4 linked regions of the Homo sapiens genome follow. The protein of the gene in region 1 purifies or fractionates together with the protein of each later gene. This does not show direct contact. Each region holds a gene or a part of one and is shown on either strand. Other genes may lie near its edges.

Region 1 (7,326 bases):
GCCTGGCCAACATGGTAGAACCCCGTCTCTACTAAAAAATACAAAAATCAGCCGGGTGTGGTGGTGGATGCCTGTAATCCCAGCTACACGGGAGGCTGAGGCAGGAGAATTGCTTGAACCCAGGAGACAGAGGCTGCAGTGAGCCAAGATCATGCCACTGCACTCTACCTGGGTGACAGAGTGAGACTCCATCTCAGAAAAAATAAAATAAAGAAAGAAAAAGAAAAAGAAAACTATAAGGACCATCTGCAAATGGAAAGAAACGCTTATAAATTCTGCTTAACTCAATCCCAGTCTCCATTTATCACAACAAGCTGTAAACAATCCAGAGAGAAACAAAAAGAGTTATACTACTTAACCTCAATCAGAAAATGAGTTGTACAGACATATCCATTTCCTTACATTATTACATTTGTTAATTGAGGTTTTACTCCATTGAAAAAGACTCATTATTTTAAATATCATTAAAAATCCATTACTTATTTTCTCCTGGATCATTTTGCTGCTAGTTAGACACAAAAAAGATTCAAAGATTTCCTTTAAGAACTTACCTTTCTAAGCATTTCATTATCTTGAACATTATTGAGTTCATGTGAACTAATCTCTCCTTTCAGCATATACTCATAAAATTTTCCACTAACATTTACCAGTAAGGTAGTTGGACTTGACTGCACTTCACAGCTCAGGGTCACATTATTTACATCACTCGGAACATGAATGCCATACCGAAGCACAAGGCCCACCAAAAGACCTGGAAAAAAGAACAACATAAGCTCTTCTTGCCGACAGAGACCACTTCTTTTGTACCCCACGCATAACTATGGATAAGAGAAAATCTCTTACGGTAGTTCCCTGTAGCTCAGAACTGATTTTTAGATGAAATGCAGTTATGTTTTAAAATATTACTAAATTCATACAACAAACAGCCCAATCTTCATATAATCCAGTGAAACAGGAGAGAAAAACATTCCCTAGGACAACAGCACAGATCACTGCATTTCTAGATCAATATTTAAATAAGTAATGAGGAAGGTAACAAAAGGAGAAAATATCTTCAAATCATCTGTAGACAGAATATGCTCCAATGTGTCCCAACTCGACAGTGCAATCGTGTTAGAAATGTGTTTTCTGGCCAGGCGCGGTGGCTCATGCCTGTAATCTTAGCACTTTGGGAGGCCGAGATGGGTGGATTGCCTGAGAGCTCAGAAGTTCGAGACCAGCCTGGGAAACTTGGTGAAACCCCAACTCTACTAAGATACAAAAAATCAGCCGGGCGTGGTGGCGGGCGCCTGTAATCCCAGCTACTCAGGAGGCTGAGGTGTGAGAATTGCTTTAACCCAGGAGGCAGAGGTTGCAGTGAGCCGAGATCATGCCACTTCACTCCAGCCTGGGCAACAAAGTGAAACCCTGTCTCAAAAAAAAAAAAAAAGAAATTTGTTTTTCACCTCCATTCATCAATTTATAAGACTTAAACAATGCACTTCGCAAGTTTATTCCCAAAGCACATGACTGGCCAAACAATGCACATTTAACAAATTGAAAAGTCAATAATATTTGTAGGTTGATTGAGTTCTTCTACTTCTAAAAGATCAGATTTTAATTTTAAAAATCTGCTTCAAAATCAAAACATGGAATAGAAGTCCTGAATCTGGCACTATGACATCAAACAGATTGCTGGATCATCCTACTGACATTCAAATATGCACAATGTTCTAGGTACTGTAAAACTAAATTTTTTTTTTTTCTGAGACGAAATTTTGCTCTGTTGCCCAGGCTGGAGTGCAGTGGCATGATCTCGGCTCACTGCAACCTCCGCCTCCCGGGTCCAATCAATTATCCTGCCTCAGCCTCCCAAGTAGCTGGGATTATAGGCTCACACCAACACACCTGGCTAATTTTTGTATTTTTAGTAGAGATGGGGTTTCACCATGTTGGCCAGGCTCCTGACCAAGGTCGAACTCCTGACCTTGTAATCCATCCACCTCGGCCTCCCAAACTGCTGGGATTACAGACCTGAGCCACCATGCCCAGCCCTATAAAACTATATTGATCGACTATAATTGTTTAGTAATGGCTTTACTGATATCTAATTCAAACACCAAAAGTTTATCCTTTTAAAAACTGTACAATTCAGTGGTCTTTAGTGTATTCACAAAGTTGAACATCAATCACCACTATCTAATTCTAGAACATTTTCCTTCCCTCCAAAAAGAACCCCACACCTACTAGCAGTCACTCTCCATTCCCCCATGCCCGAATCCACAGCCCCTGGCAACCACTCATCTACTTTCTTTCTTTATGGACCTGTCTTTTCTAGACATTTCATATAAATGAACTCCTACAATATATGGCCTTTTGTGTCTGACTTCTTTCACTTAGCATATTTTCAAGGTTTATCTATGTTGTAGCATGCATCAGAACCTCATTTACTTTTACGACCAAACGATATTTCATTGTATGGACATACCTCAACTACAAATAAAACCCAAACTTCTGGAACTTTCCTTAACTCCATGCATAGTATACCACTACTAGCTGCATTTTACCTTCCTATTGCCTTTCATTCTGACTAGCCAGCCATTCTTTTAATACGTGAATGAGTGTACTATGCTAGGTAGGCCTCCAGGGTTCAGAGATGAAAACAAGGTCCCTCCTTCAAGGAAAACTCGGTCCAGTTGGTGAAAACAGACTGAATAAACAATCATAATGTCAAGGAAAACTCGGTCCAGTTGGTGAAAACAGACTGAATAAACAATCATAATGCTATATATATATATGTATACAAGGTATTATAAAAACAGAAAAGAGACAACTATGCAACCCTGGGGGAGTAAGACATTAGGGAAGTCTTTCCAGAGATGTCACCTGGGCAGGTAACAAACTAGAAGAAATGGGTATATTCCACGTAGGGGAATAGTAGTACATATCAGTCAAGGATGGAGACAACACAGCCCATCCAGTGAATCAAGTAGTTTAGTATGGCTGGCTTATAAAGTGACAAGAGTTGAGGTTTGAAAGATTGGCAGGAGTTGAATCATAAAAGATCTTATCTGTTGGGGAAGGGAATTTGAAGTTTATCCCAAAAGTAAAATGAAGTCATAGAAGGCAGAGGCTTGATAGCAGATTTCTACTTTAGAAAGACTGGTCTAGACTAAAGAGGGTCTAAAAGGCTAGATACAGGGCTACTGTAGGCATTCAGGCAATAAGAGTTTAGGTCCTAACCTAAGAGAGTACTGACAGGAGGCGAGAAGGATTTTTTGAAGGTATTATATTTTAGGAAGATTTAGTGACTGAGGAAGGGAGATGAAAGACTAAGAGGAACCTTAATTGATTTGGTAACCAGGTGGGTAAGTTGGCCTGAGCACCGAGGGGGATAACAAGGACATTCAATGAGGTAAGGAACATACACAGATGAACAGATTTACAGGGGAAAAGGCTACATTCAGTTTTGGACACGTTGAGTTGGATGTACTTGTGACACACGCATAGTTGAGTATGTGGTATCTGGAGCTAAAGCGAGGGGTCTCAACTGGAGATATACACTGTGCAGTCATAAGATGGTTGAAGTCAGATGTAGATGAGATCGCCAGGGGAGCAAGTAAAATGGGAAGAAGACTATGATATAGATCTGGGGTTTGATCTATTAACAGCCAACATTAAGGGGCTGCTAGAGGAGAAGGAGCTGATGAAGGAGTCTGAGAAGGAAAACCCACAGGAGTAGAAAAAAAAAGGAACCAGTGGTGGCAAAGTCAGGAAGAAAGGGAAAAAATTCATTTTTGAGGAGAAGGAAGTGATAAAAACTATCAAATGCTATAGTAAAGTCGAGTAAGGCAGGCATTAGAAGTATCCATTGGGTTTGGCAACAAGGAGGCCATAGGTGACCTTGATAAGAGCAGTTTCAGTGGAGTAGCAGGAGTGGAAACCAGACCCAAGTGAGAAGTGATGAAGCAGAAATGAGGAGGTATAAGAGCAGTCGTTGCCAGCCGGGCGCAGTGGCTCACGTGTAATCCTAGCACTTTGGGAGGCCGAGGCGGGTGGATCACTTGAGGTCAAGAGTTCGAGACCAGCCTGGCCAACATAGTGAAACCTCATCTCTACTAAAAATACAAAAATTAGCCGGGCGTGGTGGCAGGCACCTGTAATCCCAGCTACTTGGGAGGCTGAGGCAGGAAAGTTGCTTGAACCCAGGAGGTGGAGGTTGCAGTGAGTTGAGATCATGCCACCGCACTCCAGCCAGGACAATGGAGCAAAAACTCTGTCCAAAAAAAAAAAAAGGCAGTAGTTGCCCAGGAAGCAGGGAGGGAGCAGAGAGGAGGGATCCTTCTGGTCAATTTATAGTCACATATATTTTTTAGAGTAGTAATGATTCATTCGTGAACAGTAGTATAATGACACCAACTTTAAAAACGTTTAAACAAAGGTTCGAATTTAAAATAAATGAAAGACACCTTTTAAAAATATCTCACCTCCAAAAACAAAATTAAAAACTGACTGTTAGATAGCAACTGCACTTGACAGACATAACCTAGAAGAGAAAAGCCTGTAGATCCAGTCGTTCTGCCTGTATGAGACAGAAACAGCTCTTTTCTCTACTATTCCACAAGAGCTAATTAAGAGGCTCAGTAAAAGCTGTCCTCTTATATTTACATGCAAAAATCACAGACAAGCTACTACAAATGCTAATAATGGCAGCATAAATTCCTTCCATGTCCCCAAGCCCAACCATGGTTCTTTTTTTTTATTTTATTTATTTATTTATTTTTGAGACGGAGTCCTACTCTGTTGCTGAGGTTGGAGTGCAGTGGCGTGATCTCGGCTCACTGCAACCTCCGCCTCCCGAGTGCCCACTGGTTCTACTGTTTGCCCAACCCTATGCTGAAGCATCACTGGGTACCCTGAGGAGAGCTCAGCACTTGGGCAAATTTGAAACACATACCTTGGTCGATAAAACAACAGCATGGAGAATAATTATTTAGGTTGAAAACAAAATCAAGATCCCTTTATTATGGCACCAGGCATCTGAAAAATTGGTATTTGAAAAAAATTCACAGATCAAGTTAACGAGGGTTCTGTAAAAGGCCAAATCCTAGTCATAGAGTCAAAGCAATTCTCAGTGAAAGGATACAAAAACAGAGCTTTGTTAAGAGACTAAAGCAGAAACTTCTAGCCTCCTACATAGAGGGAGGCACAGAAAATATTTATATTATGAAACTTTAAATGACCACTAACAGGCAACAAAGAACACAACCATGGCTGGGTGCTGTGGCTCATGCCTGTAATCCCAGCACTTTGGGAGGCCGAGGTGGGTGGATCACAAGGTCAGGAGATCGAGACCATCCTGGCTAACACAGTGAAACCCCATCTCTACTAAAATTACAAAAAATTTAGCCAGGCGTGGTGGCGGTCACCTGTAATCCCAGCTACTCGGGAGGCTGAGGCAGAAGAATGGCATGAACCCAGGAGGCGGAGCTTGCAGTGAGCCGAGATAGCGCCACTGCACTCCAGCCTGGGAGACAGAGCGAGACTCCGTCTCAAAACAAAAACAAAAACAAAAAAAACACAACCACAAAGAGATATCTTTCACAAAACAGAGAGGTCCTAACGCGTCTCAAAACAAAAACAAAAACAAAAAAAACACAACCACAAAGAGATATCTTTCACAAAACAGAGAGGTCCTAACCCTCCTACACATTCCTGACCCTCCTGTGCTGAAAAGTCTCCCAGTGATAAAAAAAATCAGCATCACCCAAGGCCCTACTAATGTGTGATTCTCCCAGTTGGCAGTGACTGGTTTCCTCATGGATTTCAGCCCATTATTCCAGCCAATCACACCTGAAGCCTCTGATAGTCAAAAATATAGGAAGAACATCACTAGGGCATTAAGTGTGACCAAAACTGATACAATTTCTACAGATTAGTTTTGTGAAAGATATGATGAGAAATAAGGTATGAGCCATAGTCATTAGATGATAAGTGCTTTGAGGGCAGATACTGTGGCTCAAACATGTATTTCTCATCATATCCCATACATCATAGACATCTAATCAATATTTATTGATGAATCACATTGGTTAAACCTCGGACTCCAGATGCCTTAAGCTTAAGGCAATACAAATATTTCTGCCATATTTTGCTTTTTATACCATCTGTAAGCACAGTGTAGTGCGTGATCACTTTTCAGACTTAATTTAACTACCTCGACAACTTTTACTAACAGTGACTCACTTTTAAGCTTCTTAAGAAAGCTAACCCAAGGAGCAAAACATGTGGGTACTTTGCAATTGTGTGTTTGTAACTGGAGCAATTGATCTATATTACAATCTAGAAACTGACCACTTTGGCAATTTAAACTGTTTTTACTCCTGCTTCTCAGATAAAGGAAAAGCTTATTTTTAATAGCATTTTCCAGGATTTACGTAGCTAACCCAATATCACAGGAATAAGATCACCAGTGGGCTGAATCTTAGAGGTCTAGGCATCCCATTTTGACCCCAGAGTCATGCTGAAAAATAAAGGTTTTAAAATAATATATTAATAATAATAAGATAGCTATGATGTTGTGAGAGCTATAAGAAAAATAACAGACAATAAATAGGACTAGAAAACTTCCATTTCTGACCAGGCGAGGTGGCTCACACTTATAATCCCAGCACTTTGGGAGGCCAAGGTGAAAGGATAGCTTGAGCCCAAGAGCTAAGAGCTTGAGACCAGCCTGGGCAACATGGGAAGACCCCCCCACACTCGCGTCACCACAAAAATAAAAATAAAAAATTAGCCAGGTGTGGTGATGCACACCTGTAGTCACAGTAACTCAGAAGGATGAGGTGGGAGGATCACTTAAGCCCAGGAGGTTGAGGCTGCAGTGAGCTATGACCCCACCACTGCACTCCAGCCTAGGCGACAGAGCAACACTCTATCAAAAATAAAAAAAGGAAAAAGAAAACTTCAATTTTCATGCTATTGAAAATACTTTGACCCTCCACAAAAAAAGAAAGAAAGAAAGAGAGAGAAAGAAAGAGAGAGAAAGAAAGAAAGAAAAGAAAGAAAGAAAGAAAGAAAGAAAAGAAAGAAAGAAAGAAAAGAGAGAGAAAGAAAGAAAGAAAGAAAAGAAAGAGAGAGAAAGAAAGAAACTTTGACCCAATCCCATCTATTCTCGAACTGGACTTGCGAGTTAAGTTAGGAGGCTGTTTGGTCCACAGCACCCATTGCCCACAATGAGAAAATAGGACAGGCTAAAGAACGCCAAGTCAACTCCAGATTTGACTCCCAGACTAACACTCTTGCACTTTACATTCCACAAGAGATACCCTTGTTTTTCCTTCAAAA
Region 2 (7,326 bases), on another chromosome or scaffold:
AGCCCAGACCTCTCAGTTCCATAATACTACACCCCACTTCACATGCCATCGCAAGTACAAAGTGGCCAGGGTACCCACACTCTGTCAAATCAGGGGCTCCCACAATGAACTACTCAAGTTCAATAATCTGCTAATAATCTTCTAACCCAGGTAGAAGGCTGCAAAACCCTAATAGAGCCCAAGACTCAGGAGGGCTCTTTTAAGAAGGCAGGCCCATACCCAGGTGGCAGCCTCACTGACCATGGTCCCAGCTACAGACCTAGAAACCTATACACTATCATTTGAGCCAATGTAAAAATAAAATGGACTTTTGTATCATATAAAAATTACCAGAGGCAAACCTAAAAGTTTGTTTTGATTTTAATTCTTATACTTAAGGATCTTGAAAATGGTCAGTAAAAGGGTATATTCTACATAATAAAAGTCCTTTCTATTTGTACGTCCGTCAGTTTAAGGGTTATTTCTCTAATGTTTGATTGTGTTTTGCTCATTATTTGTATTACTGCATTCTAATCTGGCTTCCTGGAGTTAAATTACTACCCTATGAAGTTATGTCCCAGATTCATTGTCATTTCTGTTTAAGACAGGAAAATAAACTGACTTGGGTACCTTTACTTACCATTTTTGTTTTCAATGAACTACCATTATTTAACATACTAAATGGCACTGTAAGGAATCATAATTCAACAACAACAACAACAAAATGGAAAACTGATTTATATCAGTTTCTCAGGGGCCCATTTCTTATATTCACTTTTCATTTGTACATATGGTCACAAAACATATGCGAGTTATATAAACAAATTATATTATTATTTACAAAATAATTCCTTAAAGAATTATTTCAATTCAGCTGGACATGGTAGCCCAGGCCTATAATCCCAGCTACACAGGAGGCTGACGAGGGAGGATCACTGGAGACCAGGAGTTCAAGACTGGCCTGGGTAACATAGAAAGACCTCCACATCTAAAAAATAAATAAATAAATATATACATACATATATATATATATATATATATATATATATATATATATATATATGAATTAATTTTTAAAAACACTGGAAAATTAAATTCTCAAGTTATTTGATTACTCAAATCTTTTTTTTGAGACAGAGTCTTGCTCTGTTGCCCAGGCTGGAGTACAGTGGCATGATCTCTGCTCACCACAACCTCTGCCTCCCAGGTTCAAGTGATCCTTGGGCCTCAGCCTCCCAAGTAGCTGGGATCACAGGCATGTGCCACCATGCATGGCTGATTTTTGTATTTTTGGTAGAGACGGGGTTTCACCATGTTGGCCAGGCTGGTCTCAAACTCCTAGCTTCAAGAGATCTCTTATCTCAGCCTCCCAAAGTGCTGGGATTACAGGCATGAGCCACCACGCCCAGCCCAATTACTCAAATCTTAAAATTAAACATTCCATCAGAAGTCAGTGGCCAAAATTCTCCTTTACATACAGCATAGTCTACCCAAGTCAAATCCTCTTCAGATGTGAATTGGCCTAAAAAACTGTGATAAGCAAAGAACACAAGCACAAAATTCCATTTAAGAGATGCTTCGTGCCTAGAATCAGCTTTAGGGTAGAGAAATATTAATGACAGAATTAGTCAGCATTTGGTTTAGTGGTCTAAGTATGGCCTGACTGCAAGTTGGGCTAAATATATCAAAAAGTCTGTCCAATGTGTGGCCTAATAATTCACTGCCCCTTGAAATCCATGCTATCATATTTCTGTAGATTCATTAATGCTAAAATGATTCCAATAGACAGATTTTTATTTATAATTTCACCTAAAACAACCAAGCAATTTTTCAAAATCATTATAATATTGCTGCTGATGTTAATAAATATGAAATCTCTTACTTGTATGGGGTAATTCTTTTCCTCTTCACAGTAGTAGGTTGTGCTAATACAACAATTTTTCTTTTATTGTTCACTAATGAGACAGTAATTGCCATCAGAATCCTACTGGAAACATAGACTTTTAAATATAACAGGCCTAAAGACAGGTTTCACTGTATTTATAATGATTTTCAGATACATTTTGTTCTGCATGAATACAACAGCACCAAAATGTTTTCTTTTCTGTGGAAGATAAACTTCATATTATTTAGCAACGTGTGCATAGGAGAAACAAATTTAACCAGGCAGATCTCAGGTACCTCTTTCCAGCAACTAATGAAAGAACAATGAACAGAATGCTCCTTTTTACTTAAAGAAAAAAAAAATCCTGTTAACCTTTCATTAGAAATCCTTAAAAAAATGCTATTTTAAAGTTTTTAATGTTTGAATTAGAAATGTAACCATCGGACTCACTATGAGTTCCAATGTACCGCAATGCAAAACTGCACACTCCACTTCAAATACTGATTATATATAAAGAACATTTATAGAAAGATATTTTAATGTATTGTTGGCTGGCACCACTACCTTCAGAATTTATTTAGAATGTAAAGATTTCTAGAAATACATTTTAATTAATACTTTCTGGTGGTATATTTTGGTTGATGAACTGCACTTGGCAATTACCATCCTTTGGGACCTCAGGTACTCTTCGCCTCTTAAATATTGTAGGTGCTATTAATATTTACCACTCAACAGATGGATTAACAAGTCTGTTTCTCATTCTTAGATTATAATCTTTTCTAAAGCCCAAATAAAATGTGAAAGGAGAATAGTACCTTTCATGATGTCCTAAATCCAAAAGAAATTCATCTGCATGTCTTTGGAGTTCATTTCCTTCTAAGTTCTTTAATTTCTTCAATTCACTCTGTAGGAAAAACCAGAGCTCTTTAGCTCCATTTTCAATCCTCCTCCTCAGGATTTCATGATCCTTCCCCAGACCTGTAGTCAAAGAATAGAGAGTTGTAGCATTTCCAACATTTTGATAAAAGGAAACTTTCAATTATCTGTGCTAAAGCCCATATACTGAGGAGGGGAAAACACTGTATAATCACCTACCATTTCTGGTCTGTTTCTTGTAATTTTCAATCTGTTCTTTGGCCTTAACAAGCTGCTCTTCTAAAACGCGTACTCTTCCTATAGCTGGCCCCTGATCAATAGGGCCTTCTGGTATCCTGTAGTTTAGGGAAGATAATGTAAACATTTAGCTTTCAAACTGTGCAACAAAATACAAGCTCACTTTCTAAAACATTTATACTGTAAACTCCATAAGTTGTTGAACCATATAGCACAAAAGTAGTACCAAATGGAATTTTCTCTTCAAAGGTATAGGATTAACCAGTGAAATGGACAATGAAATGATAATAACGAAAAATAGAAAATATTAATCTACTTCAGAAATCTATGATCTTCTAGGAGTTAACAAACCTCTAGAGCTGTTTCCTAAAAATCTTTCATCCCCAGAGTACCATGATCAGTGGCAAAGAGGTCAATTATTCATTAGCATTGAGAGTAACAAAAGTGAAGGAAAAAGTAAAGAAAAGGCTTAAAGGGAATAACGAAGCATATCTGAACATGTGTCTAAGGACATGCTCAAACATCAAATATAATGTATTTCTAAATTAATTATAATATCAGACTATGTAAATCTGTCTTTCAATTCATGACATTAGACTACTAAGCATTGGTCTTATATAGAAAAAAGAAAGACAAGAGTAGAAGATAAAACATATTAGAAAAAAATTGGGCCAGGTGTAGCCACTCATGCCTATAATCCCAGCACTTTGGGAGGCCCAGGTAGGAGGATTACTTGAGCCCAGGAGTTCATGGCCAGCCTGGGCAACACAGCAATCCCCCATCATTACAAAAATGAAAACATTAGCTGGGCACATGGTGGTGTGTGCCTGCAGTCCCAGCTACTCAGGAAGCTAAGGAAGGAGGATGGCTTGAACCATCCTTGAACCATAGTTCAAGATTACAATGAACTATGATCATGTCACTGCATTCTAGTGTAGGCAGCAGAGTGAAACCCTGTCTCGAAAAAATAAAAATAAAAAATTGAAGATCATTGTTCTATTCATTTCTATCAGCAACAAAAACAATCAGTCAATAATATAAAAGCTGGAACACAGAACAGCAATCCAAGATCTCTTACTTATATTATCAACCTCTCTGTTCAACTTAATTCCAAACTGTGCTTGTTCCTGTTTTGTTTTTATGTGACTTATGGCAGTATACTGTACTCCACTTTGATGTACATAATACAATTTCGTGGTAGGCTAAACAAAGGTCTCCCAAAGATATCCATAACCTAATCATGAAATCTGTGAATATTACTCTTTATGGCAAAAGAAACTCTGAATATATAATTAAGGATTTTGAGATTGGATTATCTAGGTGAGCCATTTTGTAATAACAAGTGTCTTCATAAGAGGAAGGTAGAAGAAGATTTTACTACAGAAGAGGAAAAGGTTATGTGGCTGTTAGCTTTGAAGATGGAAGAAGCAACCATGAGCAAGGAAGACATTTTTAGAAACTGGAAAAGGCAAACGAACGAACAAACAAAAATACCCCAGATGCTCTCCTAGAGCTTCTCTAGGGAATCCAGCCCTCCTGACATCTTGGTTTCAGTGCAGTGAAACTCAATTCAGATCTCTGGCCTCCAAAACTCTTAAGAGAATAAATTTATGTTGTTTTAAGCCATAAAGTTTGTGGTATTTGTCAAAGCAGCAATAGGAAATTAATACGTACATATATTGATCCTTTTACAAAATTGTCCTAAAGATTAAATAGCTGATTTTTCTTTCAAAGTCTATTTAAATGAGGAAATGTCTGTAAAAGTACTTAGCAGTGTCTGGCAATAAATTTTATGAAGGCTACTATTATATCTGAGCTTTGTCATTTTAGAGATGAGCTGTAATCTCAAAAAGTCTGGGCTATCTATTCTTACCATCATGACCAGTTTAAGGGAACTTAAGTTTTAAATTATAGTTGGCAGAACTTAAATTCAGATGTCAACACAGTCTTTTTTTTTTTTTTTTGACACAGTCTCGATTTGTCACCCAGGCTGGAGTACAGTGATGGGATCTTGGCTTGCCACAACCACTGCCTCCCAGATTCAAATGATTCTCGTGCCTCGGCCTCCTGAGCAGATGGGATTACGGGAATGCACCACCATCCCTGGCTAATTTTTTTACATTTTTAGTAGAGACGGGGTTTCATTGGGTTGGCCAGGCTGGTCTAAAACTCCTGGCCTCAAGTGATCCGCCCACCTCAACCTCCCAAAGTGCTGAATTACAGGTATGAGCCACGGCGCCCAGCCAACATAGCCTTTTGAGGCAAACACTCTGATACGAAAGGTTTTTTATAGCTTCTCTAACATTTTCTATATAACCTGATAAAGCCAAATTAACTGTCAATTACCTACACTACTTCAGAACACGTTTAATAAAGTAGCTATTGTTACAGCTATACCAAAGTAATTGGAGACATTTTATAATTTCCTGTAAAATTGTACGCATTAACATTGAACAGGAGCATAAAAAGTAACTATCCTCCAATCATGAGTGTCCAAGGCTACAGAATATGAATGAAAAAGCCTTCATTTGTATAAGCACAAAGCGAATAATAAAAAATGAATACAGTAGTTAGGTGCACAATTACCCAATTTATGAGCACGCATACATTCACAAATGAGGCATGTCCTGGTATATAGTTTTTTAAAGTTATGTTTCTAAGACTTGGCTCTTAATCTCTTTGTGAATTAGGTGGCTGGTTTCTAGGAAACAATTTGAAAATAGAATAAAACTTCAATCTCTTGGGATTTATTTTGGCAGCAATATACTATAGGACAGGAATGTCCTTTTTCAGAACATATGTTAGTGATAGAAAAATTGACAATAGAAAGATTATGTCTAGGTTCTCCTTTTTATCTCTTTCTTCAAATATTGGTGGAATAAACATCAGAGGCAAAACAGCCATGAAAAAAATAGCATGTGATCTTTTCAGTAGCTTTCCACAAAGAGTTCCAATCTAATTCTAATAAAACATAATGGAATTAGTAATCCATATTGCCTAATAATCTAATCCAACTGTGAAAAAAAAAACTGGAAAAGAAAATTACTGGAAAAATCACTCTAAAAAAAAAATACAGGAGAACTATTCTTTCCAAACTCCATCCAGAAAAGAGTCAATATGCACGAACAGTCTCTTTTCTGAATACTTAGGGAACAGAATGCTTTCTTACATTCACCATGCCAAAGATACAGATATATAAGACTTCCACTTCTAGCCAAGACATTTACCATCCTGCCTGAAACAACTCAAAATCCAGGTTAGATGTATTAAACAATGATCTAATAAAATTGCAATCAGGCAACAAAGGGCAGTGATCACCAGAGAAGGAAAACAAATGATGATAGCCCTGTGACTGTCCCAGCTTACTGCATTCAGAGAGTTTCCAGACCACAGTGTATGGAGGGGAAATGCAGATGGAGCCAGTACATTCACTGAGTTGAAGAAATGGAGCTAAGAGTCTAAAAAGACCAAGACAGAGTTTGAATAAGAGAGAACTGTAGAGGACAGAGAATTCCAGAAATCTGCAAAGGTACCATTTTGGAATTAGCAGAGTACTCATCAGCACACACACATAAGGAACTACTCAGGCTGGGGAAAGAACTCTCTAAAAGGATTAGAGGAAGTAGTACCTGGCATTCATACAGATTAGGTAGAAACAGTTCCTGATCCTATCAGCCAGACTAGAAAACCGTAATTCATGGGATGCTGGGTAAAATGCTCAGAAGGATTTGGCCTCAATAGCAGGAAAATGTGCCCCAGACCAAACATTGCTTAGGTCCCACTTAACAATTATTAAAAGACAAAATAGGATCAAATTATTTTAAAATAACATAACTACATCCCAGAACAAAATTTAAGAATATTTGTAAATTATACAAGACCTTCTAGTAACAAACAAGGTAAAATTCATGTCTGGAATCCACAAAAGTTACCAGGCTTGCAAAAAAACAAGAAAAGACAACCCATAAAGAAGAGTGAAATCAATCTATCAAAACCAACTCAAAACTGACACAGATGTTAGAATCACCATAGAAATAACAGTTATTATGACTGTATTTCATATGTTCAAAAGTTAGAGACAGGGAAGATATAAAAAAGATGTTAAAATTTTAATAGGCCAGGTGCGGTGGCTCACGCCTGTAATCCCAGCACTTTGGGAGGCTGAGGCAGGCAGATCACCTGAGGTCAGGAGTTCAAGACCAGCCTGGCCAACATGGTGAAATACTGTCTCTATGAAAAATACAAAAATTAGCCAGGCATGGTGGCAGACGTCTGTAATCCCAGCTACTCAGGAGGCTGAGGCAGGAGAACTGCTTGAACCCAAGAGGCAGAGGTTGCAGTGAGTCGAG
Region 3 (7,746 bases), on another chromosome or scaffold:
GTGTTATCTATTTCTTTATTGATCTGTATGGTTGTTTAAGTTATATAATTTTAGTACAGCAAGAATTTGTTTATATGGTATAGGGTAGAACATTTAGTGCTAATGTCACCCTCTTCCCTCCTTATAAATTAAAAGGTAGCATGCCCAGGGTTCCAAGCTTCTTATGTATTCCTCACTCCATGAGGCTTGCTGAGATCACTAAATATCAGTTGTGCCTTCATAAGAAGGGAGGCACTGAAGAACTACATCCTTCTGCACCAACACGTATCTTTGATCTCATGTATGTTCTCTGCACTGCTTCTGTGGTAGTTCAATAACAAATTGAAGCACAAGTAACTTTATCCATGAATGAGATACCATTCTTCCCAATCTTTGAAATCTAGATCAAGTAGTCTGGTCTACTTTAAATAATTACACCAATATCTCCTAAAAACCCTACTGGATCTCCACTACCACCCCCAAATTACAAATTATAAAGTGCAGCTCATGTACTGGTATTGAAGTAATGCTCACTGTCACATCAAAGGTAAGTAAGGCACACAAAGAAAAGACAATCACAGGATATGCAATATGTGTTGTATAGTGTGGGAGAAGTTGCTGGCTGATCACAAGGGTAATTTCCTTGGCACTAGATGTGACCATTACCTGGTTCCAGCCAACAGAATGTAAATAGAAGACCTGTATGCCATTGTCAGCCCTTGCCCATAAAAACTTCCTATAATTATGAATTATAATTCTTTATGATCTTTCCCCTTCTGGTTTGATGCAAGCAATTTTGAAGGTCATGGTTGAAAACGGCAAAATTCCAAGGTAGGAAGTTGCAGAATCCCTGAATCATTACTTGGAGGAGAGTCATTTTATTAGTCAGAGTTCATCAGAGAAGCAGAATCAATAGGGTGTGTGTGTGTGTGTGTGTGTGTGTGTGTGTGTGTGTGTACATACAGGCATACCTCATTTTACTGCACGTTGATTTATTGCATTTTTCACAAATTGAAGGTTTCTGGCAACACTGCATTGAACAAGTCTACAGCTGCCATTTTTCCAACACTATAGTCACTTTATGTTTCTGTGACACATTTTTGTAATTCCTTTTTTTTTTTTTTTTTTTTTTTTGAGATGGAGTCTTGCTCTGTCACCCAGGCTGGAGTGCAGTGGCACAATCTCGGCTCACTGCAACCTCTGCCTCCTTGGTTCAAGCGATTCTCCTGTCTCAGCCTCCCGAGTAGCTGGGATTATAGGCGCGCGCCACTATGCCCGGCTAATTTTTGTATTTTTAGTAGAGACGGGGTTTCACCATATTGGTCAGGCTGGTCTCCAACTCCTAACCTCAGGTGATCCGCCCGCCTCGGCCTCCCAAAGTGCTGGGATTACAAGCGTGAGCCACCGCGCCGGGCCTTCTTTCACTCTCAACACACCTATTTAACACACTTTTTGTACATGCTATTTCTTATAACTGCGATGCCTTTCTGCTGTTATTCAGTTTTAATGGCTGACTGAGGATCCGACCAACACTGGTATATTCCAGAAGTGGTGTTTGACAATCACCTATTACTTAAAGTTTTAGTTGTCATGTGGCTTCAGGAATGCAATGTAGAATGATATAATAAAAAGTACACCCAACATGGCACAATCGCACCAAGTTTCTAGTTTTATTATTAAAAAGACAAGTGATAAAAACTGCTGTGGGCCTGTTTTCTCATTTGTGACGTGAACTAGACAATCCAAAGATTCTTTAAAGTTCATAATTCTAGTTTTCTATTTAAAAACACCAGTATTTATTAGGTACTTAAAAAGTACTACAGCTAACTTACAACACTTCAATTTCTAGACAAATGCATCAACATACTTACATCATTTACACACAATAATTAACCTTATCAACTAGCTAAGACAGAGAGTACAGAATATCTTGTTCTGAGGATTTGGAGATGAGATCTAAATGTTACTGGAAGATCAAACCAATAAGACGTGAAGGCAAAACTCCAAACTGAAAACAGGTCAAACTTACAATGACCCAAAGGAGGGCTACCTCGAGTGATGTCGACATTTGTAAAACAAGCAAAATCATCAGATGAGATCGGGATTTTGCCTGCTTTTAAGCAACAAAAAGTTTATACGTTAATGAACTCTTTTCTAATTTGAGACTTCTTCCTGTGGCCACGTTATTTACCTTTTCTCTCCCAGTCCTGAGCTTTGGTTGCCATTTGCTTTTAACTCCCAAGCAAACACCTCCTCTTTGTTGCTTGGGCAGATGCTATAAATAAAATCAGCGAAAGTGTCTGATTGATGGTAAACAGGCCTGGGGCGATAATGAGTCTAGTAATTAGGGCCTCTCTGGATTCAACCCAGCCCTTTCGCCCGCCCCCCGGCGGCGCACAATGGGCTCTGCGCGGGTATCGAGGGAGCGGCCAACAGTCCCTGGCCCCACCGCCGTGAAGTGGGGTCCCTTCGCTTCCACATAGGTGGAGACTGAGACAGCCGAGCCTATTTTGATCTCGTTTGGGTTTCTGTAAGGAGCAGTCAGCAGAGTGAGCAGCGCCCAGACGCGCCCCGGGCCCCCTCTACAACCATTGGGAGAGCGCCCCGGGCTCAAGCGTGGAACGGGGCTGCAATGGCAACCGCTGGAATAACGGCCTCGGCTCCCGGTGGCTCCTCAAGCCCGCAGGGGAGGCCGGCCGGGCTAGGCACCTAGCTGTCCCCGTGCTCGTCCGCCCCAGCCCGGGCGCAGCAGGTGGATGCGGCGGTGCTGAAGACACAAAGGGTCCCAGGTGGCACCACCTCCTGCGTCCACCCACGGGGCCGCCAGAGCCCAGTCAAGACCCTAGCTCGCTGCAGCCCCATCGCCAGACTCAACATCCACCCTCACTTGGCCCCGACCGGTTCAGCCCTCTGGCGGCAAAGTAACGGGGTGCCTGGGGGAAGCAGCAACGACTCCGCTTCCTCACCCCAATCTGCGCGCAAAGGGCAGCGGGACAGCGGGAACGCGGCCTGCTGCTCACGCACCTCTCTTGCGGCCTGTTTTCGGCAGTGACAGCTCAGATGTCCAAGTCGTTGCCACTTGGTCCCCGCGTCTCTTCAGACCAGTCCCGCCGGCGGCCGCGCAGCAGCGACTACTAACCGCGCGTGCGCGTGCGGTGGCGGGCGGGAGGCGGTGGCGGCCCGAGGTGTGTGCTACGCGCTCCTGCTCCGAGGGGCTCAACCGCCTCCAGGGGGAGCCGCACATGGAGCCTGTGCCGCCGCCGGCCGGTTGTGGCCTGGACCCCGCTCCCGGGTTAGCCCAGGAGGAATTCCCCCTGCAAGTCCGAAGACTTTTCCTCCTCTGAGCTCCCGCCCTCTCTGCAGACCGTGCTACCTCCTGTTGCGCAATGATTGGGTCCTGAATTTTATGTAAATCATATTTATGAACAACGTCCAGTAATAAGTGCAGCAAGATTAGGGCTCTAGGTTTTCTCCAGAGTTCTAGATGTTAACAGATCTGCAGTCATGGTGATTAATAAGGAGCTTTCCTGTCTGGTGTGTGTATATGACAAATACAGATGCGTTAAGTGTTAATAAATACATTGTATATAAAACAATATGTTCTTTTTCTCTCGAACAACACTATTAATAAGAGCTGCTAACATTTATTGTGTTCATTGTGCTCTAAGGGGCTTACATTCATTGTTTAACCTTCGTGGCAACCCAGGTGATGAAACTGATGGCAACTTGCTCGAAGTTACACAACATGTAAACAGTGGAAACGGGATGTAAATCAGGCCTGTCTCTCTCAGAGCCTGTAGTTTCAAACACATTGAAATAAATCTTAGCATAAACGTAGTTTATGCTATGATTATGCAATCACAAGCTGCTTTGCCTTTTATATATTGGATCAATATTAATTTTACTACTTAATATTTTATAGTAAATCTTGACTTTGAATTTGGTATAACAATTTAATTTTATTGGAAGATTAATTAACAACATTTAATTGACTTGTGAGTCTAAGACCCTTGTTGAAGAGTTTCAATCTTAAGGGTTTGGTGGCATTCCGTGCACAACGTATCATTATTGGCTAGGGGTCAAGATCACTGAGTTTTTTCACATTGCTTCACTAATTAAGACCAGCATTTCTAAACTTTTGACTTTGTCATCTCTGGGAGAGTGTTTGGATAGTGTTAAAATTTACTGGTTAAAAAGACATTTTGTTTGAGATACTTTGTAACAATATTATACCCTTTATTTCTTTCTTCCGTCCTTCTGACTTCTATTATTCAACATACTTCTGTGGCCCATAACAAATACACTTGAACTGCTAGAGAGGGATTTTTTAAAGGATCCATTCAAAGTTTGCAGTGAGGAAGCTGAAAACTAAAAATGTAAGAATAGTGAATTTTTGCAAGATTTAGTAGTATCTTCTTGGTCACATAGTACTCAAAACCTTGAGAACATTTTTTTACTCTTTGGCTGCTACATTCACTGCCTCCATAAATTAAACTCTAACTCCATAAAATCATCTAAAAGAGGTCCTCACCCCCTCCAGTCCCTGTGCCATTTCTCTAGTTTAGATTCTCACTACTTTAGAAACTGTTGTTCAGAGTTACCTAACTAGTTGCCCCCCTTCAGAGCCTCCCACCTACACTTCGTAGTTTAATCCTCAGCTCATTCAATAGTTTCCAATGACCCTTCATTACCCACAGCATGAAATCTAATCTCTAACCTTGAAATTTAAGGCCTTAACATATCTCCAAAATTATTTGCCACTTATTGAAAGGATGATTGAATATAATATTTATAATTTGTTTAATAGGCAACTTTTCATCAGAATAATACAATGTGATAATGTCAGAGGAGAAAGAATAATCTGCAAATAAGACAAGGGGTATGGCTTTTGAGAGTGATGTAGTGTTTAATAATACAAGCGGAGGAGTCCCAGAATGTAATGCTGAATGGTAGAGTCGTGAAGTGTTCTGACACATCAAAGTTGAAGAGAGATTTGGGAAGAGACCAAGGCAATGTAATCAAGATTGGAGGGACTAGAGTAATCAGAAATCTAGAAAAACATAAAAAGCAGGAAAGGTGACCTGGCATGGTGGCTCATGCATGTAATCCCAGCTCTTTGAGAGGCTGAGGCAGGTAGATCACTTGAGCCGAGCTGCCTGAGACCAGCCTGGGAAACATGATGAAACCCCATCTCTACAAAAAAATACAAAAAATTTAACTGGGCATGGTGGTGCATGCCTGTAGTCCTAGCTACCTGGGAAGCTGAGGTGGGAGGAAGCTGAGGTGGGATGAGCCCAGGAGGCAGAGGTTGCAGTGAGCCCAGATAGTGCCACTGCACTCCAGCTTGGATGGCAGAGTGAGACATTGTGTCAAAAAAAAAAAAAAAAAAAAAAAAAAAAAAAAGCAGAAAGGTTCATGCTCCTTGATGGAACAGAGTGATGTCCTGTTGGAAGCCTGTTTTGTAATCAAAATCAGAGCTGTGTTTTATTAATGTTCTACTATGTGCAAGTTGCTATATGCAATTGACCCACAGGTATCATCCTTATTTTACTTATGAGGAAATAGACCCAGATCAGTTACATAACTTATTCACACAGATCTTAAGATGCAGAGTGAGGATTCAAAGCCTGTGCCCTTTCCACAACACCTTGCCACTTGAAAAATGCAGAATATAGGAAATGCCTCGATTATCAGGATTAAAGAGCTATGCAGAATGAAGTTTTAACTCAAATACAATGAGTGGACTCAGAACCTAGATAATTCAAATAATACTTTAAAAATGTTTGTATATTTTCATATGTTTAGGAATGTGCTTTTTAATGGTGCAGAAAATAGAGAAAAGGAAACAAAGTATTCCACAAGTATTTCCAGTGGGTTGACTTTTATTTTCAAGATGTATAATTATGTCTATGGCAGAAAATGATCTTTTCTTTCTTATATTTATACTTATTTTCTGAGGTTTTTTTCCTTATTACTTTAACAAAAATATCAAACAATAGTAAATAATAGTAATGACAATAGTCATCATTGTTTTTCCCAGAATTCGTCTGGTTAAACTATATAGTTGGCAGAATGAGCCCATGCTGAGTTTTTTTCTTGTGTCTCAAGATAACCCCCCTCAGAAACACTACCCGACTTTAGGATTTATAGAATGATATACAGCTATAGTTATCAAAGAGTTATCAAAGAGTATTAGTATCAAGGCAAACAAATCAATGGAACAGAATAGATTCTATATAGACTTACATGTGTATGTATTATGGCCTGGATATGGTTGGTTTGTCCCAACCAAAACTCATGTTGAAATTTGGTCCCCAGTGTGGCAGTGCTGGAAAGTGGGGCCTAATGGGAGGTATTTGGGTCATGAAGGTCCTGTCCTCGTAGGTGGCTTGATGCCATTGCAGTAGTGAGTGAGTTCTTGCTCTGACGAGACTGGATTCATTCCCATGAGAATGGGTTGTTATAAAGCTGGGTGCCCCTCAGGTTTTCCCTCTTTGCATGCGTCTGCTTCCCCTTTGACCTTCTCTGCCATCTTTTGGCCTAGCACAAAAGCCTCACCACAAGCCAGAGCCATGTCCTTGAACTTCCCAGCTAGCCAGACTGTGAGTTAAATAAATCTCTTTTCTTTATAAATTACCCATTCCCAGGTGTTCTGTTATAGCAACACAAAACAGAATAAGACAGTGTGGGGAACTGGTTTTCAACATAGGTACACATGCAGTTGGTAGAGAAAGCCTAGTCTTTTCAACAAATTGTGGTGGTACAATTGAATATTCACATGTAATAAGTACATTTTTCAATCCATACCACACAGCATATATAAAAAAAGAGACTGGCTGCATTTTGCCCCGTCTTAGATATTTGTGGAACTTTGAACTTGAGGGAGATGATTTAGGATATATGGTGTAAAAAATTTCTAAGCAGCAAAGCACTCAAGAGGTGACTTGGGTGCTATTAGAGGCACTCCGTTTTAAAAGGGAAACAGAAAATAAAAGGTTTGAAAATTTGCAGCCTGACAATGTGATAGAAATGAAAATCTCCACTGCAGAAATTTTCATAAGTAACAAGAAGCCAAATGTTAATCCACACGACAATGGGAAAATGTCTCCACGGCATGTCAGAGGTCTTCATGTCAGCCACTCTCATCACAGGTCCAGAGACCTAGGAGGAAAAGACAGTTTTGTGGGCTGGGCCCAGGGCTCCTCTGCTCTGTGCAGCCTAGGGACTTGGTACTCTGTGTTCCAGCTGCTCCAGCCATGGCTAAAAGGGGTCAACGTACAGCTCAGGCTGCTGCTTCAGAGGGTGGAAGCCCCAAGCCTTGGCAGCTTCCAGGTGGTGAGCCTGTGGGTACCCAGAAGTTGAGAATTAAGGTTTAGGAACCTCTACCTAGATTTCATAGGATGTATGGAAACGCCTGGATGCCCAGGTGGAAGTTTGCTGCAGGGGCGGGGGTCTCATGGAGAAGCTCTGCTAGGGCAGTGCTGAAGGGAAATGTGGGGTCAGAGCCCCCCACACAGAGTCCTTGTGGGGCACCACCTAGTGGAACTGTCAGAAGAGGGCCACCATCCTCCAGACCCCAGAATGGTAGATCCACTGACAGCTTGCGCTGTGCACCAGGAAAAGCTGCAGACACTCAACACCAGCCTGTGAAAGCAACTGGGAGAGAGGCTATACTTTGCAAAGCCACAGGGGTGCAGCTGCCCAAGACCGTGGGAACCTACCTCTTGCATCAGCGTGACCTGGATGTGAGACATGGAGTCAAAGGAG
Region 4 (7,166 bases), on another chromosome or scaffold:
TATGGGGGACTGGGCAGGCCGTGGTCTGGGTGAGGCCACACCTCCGAGTCTATGCCAGCCAGTATGTCCCTTCGGGGTTACTGCTTGCTGCCAAGGCTGTCACTAACCCAGTCAGAGGTGACCAGGGCAAAGACAGCGTGTGAGCCTTCAGGTTCTGACTCTTCCACAGCTAAGGCTGAGAGCGTGCCCACTCTGCCCAGAGAGGCCCCGGCGTCTGAGAGCAGAGCCCAATTTGCTGGCACAACCTCGGCCACCAAGGCAGGAAGGGCCCTAACTAACAACGCACAAATGAATTCTCCTCTTCCGCACCCCCCTGCTTCCTTCACCAAAGAACCAGGCATCCCGGCCTCTGCTCTTCCCAGCTTTCAAACTCCTCTTGGGAAGGGCCTGTGTCTGTCTCCCCTGGAATAACACTGCCTCACTCACGACCTGCTTAAGGAATGAGGCCGTCAGAAATGGGGCTTAAAAGAAGTTTTAAACAGGCTGCCATGGAACACAGTTGCCAGATTTTCCGAATCAAAATACAGAACATCCAAGTTAAATGGAATTTCAGATAAAGAGTAATCTTTGAAGGGAAGTGTGTCCCATGGAGTACTGGGAACATACCCTAAAAATCACTCCCTGTGCATGGAACTCATATTTAATTGTGCCCCCTAAATTGGGCCTGGCAGGATGAAGACGTGGTGGCTTCCTTACCTCGAGGAGCCAGCCCTTCTTCTCACACTCTGGCCACTCCTCTGGCACGTCCTGTCGGCACAGCCCTCCAAACACATTCCTCCACACGGTGGGCAATGTAAAACCCCACCATCGCCCACACCTCCTGCCTCCGCTGGGATCCACTGCCCACCTCCCCGTCCCCTCCCCGCGGCCTGCCACCTCTGGCCACAGGGGACTTCCTGCCCTTCCTCAAAAGGAAGTCAGTCTGTGACCCAGGGCGACTGTGCTGCTGCCCCTTCCAGCCGCATGCCTCTCCCTCCGAACAGTCCACTGGTGTCAGCAAGGTCCCTGCCCTGAGTGTCACTGCCCCTGGGCAGCTGACCTGGCCCACGCCACTTCCTCCCACACCACTGCCTCCTTACCCTGCTTTATGAAGTTTTCTTGGCCCTTCTCAGTGCCCTAAATGAAATATTCATGACTTAGTTGGCATCTCCGTGGCAACCTGGCCTTGTGCCCTTGTGCCCTAGGATGTTCCAGCTCCTCACAAATACTGGCACAGAGGGGACATTCCTTGAACAGTGAATGCCACTGGACAGCCTCGAAGTCAGCGAGGATGCTGGGAGGCCATCCCAGAGGGGATCCGATGGGACCTTGGTCTAGGGGCCCTTGAAGGGTCTTCACCAACCTCAGCTTCTACGACTGTAAAAGCAACTCAAACAGAACTGTACTGTGCATGCCTGGAGGTCCCCAAACCTCCCGTTAAAATGACCAACACATGGGAGGACAGCTCTTGTGGCTGCCCCAAAGAGAAGGAGACATCCTCAATATGAAAACCACGTGCCCCACTCTGCTCCCACATGGCGTGCAACATGCCCCACACCACCCAGAGCAGGGAGGGACCCTGGCTGACTCTGGAGAGGCTGCTCTGAGGCCCAAGTCAACAAGAGGCTATGGCTGTGCAGAAGGAACAGCGCGGCGGTGACCACTGCCCAGCCTGGACAATTCCCAGGGCTCCACACATCTCTCGGTCACTGCGACCACCAGTATTATCAGATCCAACCGTTGCACGTGCAGGCGTGACTTTCTGGGTGCCTGAGTGATGGAGACAGAGACAGGCCCAAGAGTCTGTGAGTGCAGATACACAAAAGGCAACAGCAGGCTGGGCCGCCGAACTGGGCCAGGATGGACTGAGAATCCTCAGGTGGGACAAGGATCCCAATTATTCACATTTCCTGGTCCCTTCTGTCCCCACCCCATGAGAGAGGCGCCCCCGCCAGAAATATGTGTTCCCCTCCTTTTGCAGCTGGGAAAACAACCGAATGTCCTGGCGCTGCTTTCTAGAACATGTTCAGGTCTCCCAGAGCCCAGTGGCCTGAGATTCACTGGGCAGCAGGTGGCCGCCTCTCCCCAGAGCCCTTCAGTCTGGAAGTCCAAGCACAACCCTGGCGTCCAGCTCCCCTGCCACCAGGATCCAGGTTACCAGAGGCCGTCCGGGGATCTCCGGCAGCGTAGGAGGGCGGGCCCGGGCTGCAGCAGTCACGAAAACTCCGCCGGCGGCGCCCGAGGAGTTGCTAGGGGAATCTGCTCCGCCTCTAACCCGGCACACGCAGGCCCACCTGCTTCCAGCATGCCGGGACAGTTCACTGAGAGAACCGCCCCCACCGCGGAGGCACCGAGGGTCCGGCTCGCTTATGCCCACGCAGCCGGCTAGACCTTCTGTGGGGGCTCTGCTTTCTCCGCGTTACACCACCCCGACCCCACAAGGCCACGAGGAAAGTAAATGAGGCCTCAGCCCGTCCCCAGACCCCCTCCCCTAAGTGTCCACCTTTGCGCCTAGGACCCCGCGTGGGCCAAGCCGGCCTTCTCCGCTTGGACCCCGCCGGGCCTACCTGCCTTGCGCAGCAGACCGATTTGCGAGCCGTTGAGGGCCATGTAGTCGCAGTCGGTGACGACCCGCACTCGCACCCCACGCTGGTGCAGCAACTGCACGGCGCGGCCCAGCTGCGGGCTGGAGAAGGCGAACAGGCAGAGATCCAGGCTGGCGCGGGCGGCCAGCAGGGCACGCAGCAGGCGGCTTAGCGCGCTCTCGCCGTGGGGCAGGCCGCACGGGCAGCCCTCGGGGAGCTCGGCCAGCTCCGCGCCCGGAGCCCGCAGCAGGGCCTCGGTACAGGTCACCTGAGACGGGAAGAACAGCGCCTCGCGCCGCGGCCGCCGCCGCCTGGACCGCAGCCAGCGCAGCACCCAAGGCAGCGCCTCCAGAGTCAGAGCCAGGCCCACAGCCGCCGCGGCCGCCACCTGCCAACTCAACCGTCCCATGCCGCCGCTAATCCGGGACCCACAGCCACGCCGCCGCAGCGGAGTCTGCGCGCCCCCAGCCCTAGACCGCCAGGCCACGCCCCCGTCACGCGCCGCCAGCGGCCATGTGCCAGGCCACGCCCAGCCCCCCATGGCCACGCGCCAGGCCACGCCCTATCACGTCCTGCCAATTGCCACGCACCAGGCCACGCCCCCGTCACGCAGCGCCAACGGCCACGTGCCAGGCCACGTGCCAGGCCACGCCCAGCACCCATGGCCACACGCCAGGCCACGCCCCCGTCACGCCCCACCAACGGCCACGTGCAAGGTCACGCCCTCAGCCCCCGAGGGCCACGCGCTAGGCCGCGCCATGCCCCCACAACTGTCACGCACCAAGCTGAACCCACGCCTCCCATCAGCCCGCCCCCAACCCTCAACAGGTGACCACGCCTCCCTCCACGCGCCAGGCCACGCCCCCTGCCACAGACACCCTCCACCCCCCAACGCCAGGCTGTGCCCCCCATTTTCCTTCCAGCCAGGCGCTCGGCCACGCCCTCCAGGTTCCACCTCCCACCACGTGCCAAGCCACGTCCCCAAGCCCGCGCCACCAGGCAGCACCTGCACACCCGCGGGCCACGGGCCCTAGCACACCCGTCACCTGCCCAGGCCAGAGACCGCTCTCCGCGCTAGAAGCCACAGCAACCCCGGCTTTCCTCGCATGGAGCACAGCAGAGCTGCTCTGGAAATGTGGGGTCACACCTTCACTGTCTTCTCGGGAGCAGCTAGGCTGGGCTGGGGAATGACCTGGGAACACAGATAATCAGGGAATCAACACAGCTGGAGGCAGCATTGGAACCCAGCATACTGGAGGCGGTGTCGGCCCAGAGGTTTTTTCCTAGCCCAAGAGGTTTTTTCCAGCCGGCGTTGTTGGAAGGCCTGCCCTGCTTTAAGCATAAACAGAGGAAGAGACTAAGGCAGCCGAGGGCACTGGGCCGGGGGCATAGGGAAACGGGGCAATGTGGTGGTCTGGGCTGGATCCTGGAACCGAAAGAAGACATTCACGGAAAAACTGGTGAGAGCCAAATAAAGTCTGGAGCTTAATCGCATTGTACCAATGTCAGTTTCTTAGCTTTGACAAATGTATGAAAGGAATGTAAAAGGTTAACAAAGGAAGCTGCGTGGGGGTAAATGGATCTCTCTGTTCTATATTCGAAACTTTTCTGTAAAGCAAATTATTCTAAATTAAAAGTTTATTAAAATATTAAACTTGCACCTTCCATATGATCCAGCTATCCCACTCCTAGGAGAAAGGGCGGGATCCATTAACACAAGCACGTGTCCTGGCAGGCGTATGTGCCTAGAACAACCCAAAAAGGCGTCAGCAGGTAAACAGGTAAATAAGCTTTTGTATATCTGTACAAGGGAATGCTATTTAGCAATAAAATAGAATGAAGTGGCCTGGCACGGTGGTTCATGCCTGTTATCCCAGAACTTTGGGAGGCTGAGGCAGGAGGACAGCTTGAGTTCGGGAATTCGAAACCAGCTTGGCCAACATGGTGAAACACTGTCTCTACCAAAAAATACAAAAATTAGCTGAGTGCGCTGACGTGCCTGTGATCCCAGCTACTCGGGAGGCTGAGGTGGGAGAATCGCTTGAGCTCTGGAGACTAAGGTTGCAGTGAGCCAAGATCATGCCATTGCACTCCAGCCTGGGTGACACAGCAAGACCCTATCCCCCCCCCACCAAAAAAAAAAAAAAACAGTACTCACATGTGCTACGACGTGGATGAATTTCATTAATATTGAGTGGGAAAAGCCAGACAAAAAGAGTACATACTGTATGATTCCATTTACATAAAATTCTAGAAAATGCAAACTAGATTGAGGGAAAGCAGACCAGTGTAGCCTGGAGGCCAACAAAGCCACAAGGAAGTGGAGTGATGGATGTGTGCTTATCGGGTTGACTGTGGTGGTTTCACAGGTATATACATATGTCAAATTGTATGGTGTAAATAACTAAAAATGTATGTCAGTGATTATGTCAATAAAATTCTTTTTTTTTTTTTTAAGACGGAGCCTCGTTCTTTCGCCCAGGCTGGTGTGCAGTGGTGCGATCTCGGCTCACTGCAACCTCTGCCTCCGGGGTTCAAGTGAGTCTCTGCGTCAGCCTCCCGAGCAGCTGGGATTACAGGCGCCCACCACCACACCCGGCTAATTTTTGTATTTTTAGTAGAGATGGGGTTTCACCATCTTGGCCGTGCTGGTCTCGAACTCCTGACCTCGTGATCCACCTGCCTCGGCCTCCCAAAGTGCTGGGATTACAGGCGTGAGCCACCGCACCCGGCCTTCTTTTTTTTTTTTTTGAGATGAAGTCTCGCTCTGTCGCCCAGTCTGGAGTGCAGTGGCACGATCTCGGCTCACTGCAACCTTCACCTCCTGGGTTCAAGCAATTCTCCTGCCTCAGCCTCCCAAGTAGCTGGGACTACAAATGCACACCACCACATCGGCTAAATTTTTGTTTTTGTATTTTTAGTAGAGACGGGGTTTCATCGTGTTAGCTAGGATGGTCTCGATCGCCTGACCTCGTGATCAGCCTGCCTCGGCCTCCCAAAGTGCTGGAATTACAGGTGTGAGCCACCGTGCCTGGCGAATAAAATTCTTAACAAAGAAAAAGAACACTTGAGTTTAGTGCTGGCTCCCAGGCTTCCTAGCTGCATGGTCTAGGGCAAATTGATTCATCTCTTCTGAGCTTCACTTTCCTCATCTAAAACGATAATGAGAGGAGGGACTTGGAGTTGTGGAGGTATAAAGAAGGACTCAAATCCCTCCAGAGAGGGATAAACAAAAATAAAACTGGGGGAAAACAGTTTTCAAAAACAGCCACTTCAGGGCTGGAAATCTACCAAAGGCAGACAACAAAATGAGAAGCTTTATTTGATTTTTATTTATTTTTTGTCTTCCAGTTTCTATTTTTAACTTTGTCGGTATATAGTAGGTATATATATTTATCGGGTACATGAGATATTTTGGTACAGACATGCAATTTGTAATAATCACATCAGGGTAAACAGGATATCCATCACCTTAAGCATTTATCCTCTTTTGTGTTACAACATTTAGTTATTAGTTTATTTATTTATTTATTTATTTGAGACGGAGTCTTGCTCTGTTGCCCAGGCTGGAGTGCAGTGGTGCGATCTCAGCTCACTTTGCAAGCTCTGCCTCCCAGGTTCACGCCATTCTCCTGCCTCAGCCTCCCAAGTAGCTGGGACTACAGGTGCCCGCCACCACGCCCAGCTAATTTTTCGTATTTTTAGTAGAGATGGGGTTTCACTATGTTAGCCAGGATGGTCTCGATCTCCTGACCTCACTATCTGCCCTCCTCGGCCTCCCAAAGTGCTGGGATTACAGGCGTGAGCCACCGTGCCCGGCCTAGTTTTTTATTCATTTATTTTTCAGATGGAGTCTTGCTCTGTCAGCAGTGACGTGATCTTGGCTCACGGCAACCTCCGTCTCCCAGATTCAAGCAATTCTCCTGCCTCAGCCTCCAGAGTAGCTGGGATTACAGGCACCCACCACCACGCCCGGCTAATTTTTGTATGTTTAGTGGAGACGGGGTTTCACCATGTTGGCCAGGCTGGTCTCGAACACCTCACATCAGGTGATCCGCCCACCTTGGCCTCCCAAAGTGCTGGGATTACAGGTGTGAGCCACCGTGCCTGGCCGTTTGTGTTTATTTTTTATTTTTTGAGACAGAGTCTCGCTTTGCTGCCCAGACAGGAGTGCCATGGGGCCATCTCAGCTCACTGCAACCTCCACCTCCCTGGTTCAAGCGATTCTCCTGCCTCAGCCTCCTGAGCAGCTGGGATTACAGGTGCCTGACACCACGCCTAGCTAATTTTTGTACTTTTAGTAGAGATGGGAGTTCACCATGTTGGCCAGGCTGGTCTCGAACACCTGACCTCAGGTGATCCGCCCACCTTGGCCTCCCAAAGTGCTGGGATTACAGGTGTGAGCCACAGTGCCTGGCTATAATAACCATTTTAATATGTGTGTGTATGTCATTAACATCATGTCGTATACCTTAAATATATACAATTTATTTTTTAAAAGCTTATACAAACTATATTATCAGATAAGGGGTTAATTTCCACAATATATAAGAGCTCAAGTGATTCTCCTGCCTCAGCCTCCTGAGTAGCTGGGACTACAGG

The links.
Region 2: the proteins of SLC9A6 (region 1) and FUT8 purify together in Homo sapiens (affinity purification with mass spectrometry; 3 studies listed by BioGRID and IntAct, with this or other methods). This does not show direct contact.
Region 3: the proteins of SLC9A6 (region 1) and CLGN purify together in Homo sapiens (co-immunoprecipitation; 3 studies listed by BioGRID and IntAct, with this or other methods). This does not show direct contact.
Region 4: the proteins of SLC9A6 (region 1) and PLD6 purify together in Homo sapiens (affinity purification with mass spectrometry; 3 studies listed by BioGRID and IntAct, with this or other methods). This does not show direct contact.

What each region holds. Positions count from the first base shown.
Region 1 is NC_000023.11:135,988,211-135,995,536, reverse strand, and holds part of SLC9A6 (sodium/hydrogen exchanger 6), read right to left. Parts: intron 752-7,326; coding exon 552-751; intron 1-551. UniProt on the Homo sapiens protein: Endosomal Na(+), K(+)/H(+) antiporter. Mediates the electroneutral exchange of endosomal luminal H(+) for a cytosolic Na(+) or K(+).
Region 2 is NC_000014.9:65,611,727-65,619,052, reverse strand, and holds part of FUT8 (alpha-(1,6)-fucosyltransferase), read right to left. Parts: intron 3,076-7,326; coding exon 2,960-3,075; intron 2,843-2,959; coding exon 2,680-2,842; intron 1,964-2,679; coding exon of another isoform or gene 1,862-1,963; intron 1-1,861. UniProt on the Homo sapiens protein: Catalyzes the addition of fucose in alpha 1-6 linkage to the first GlcNAc residue, next to the peptide chains in N-glycans.
Region 3 is NC_000004.12:140,424,534-140,432,279, forward strand, and holds the start of CLGN (calmegin precursor), read right to left. Parts: upstream 3,116-7,746; 5' UTR 3,004-3,115; intron 2,255-3,003; exon of another isoform or gene 2,171-2,254; intron 1-2,170. UniProt on the Homo sapiens protein: Functions during spermatogenesis as a chaperone for a range of client proteins that are important for sperm adhesion onto the egg zona pellucida and for subsequent penetration of the zona pellucida.
Region 4 is NC_000017.11:17,203,314-17,210,479, forward strand, and holds the start of PLD6 (mitochondrial cardiolipin hydrolase), read right to left. Parts: upstream 3,021-7,166; 5' UTR 2,974-3,020; coding exon 2,547-2,973; intron 1-2,546. UniProt on the Homo sapiens protein: Presents phospholipase and nuclease activities, depending on the different physiological conditions. Interaction with Mitoguardin (MIGA1 or MIGA2) affects the dimer conformation, facilitating the lipase activity over the nuclease activity.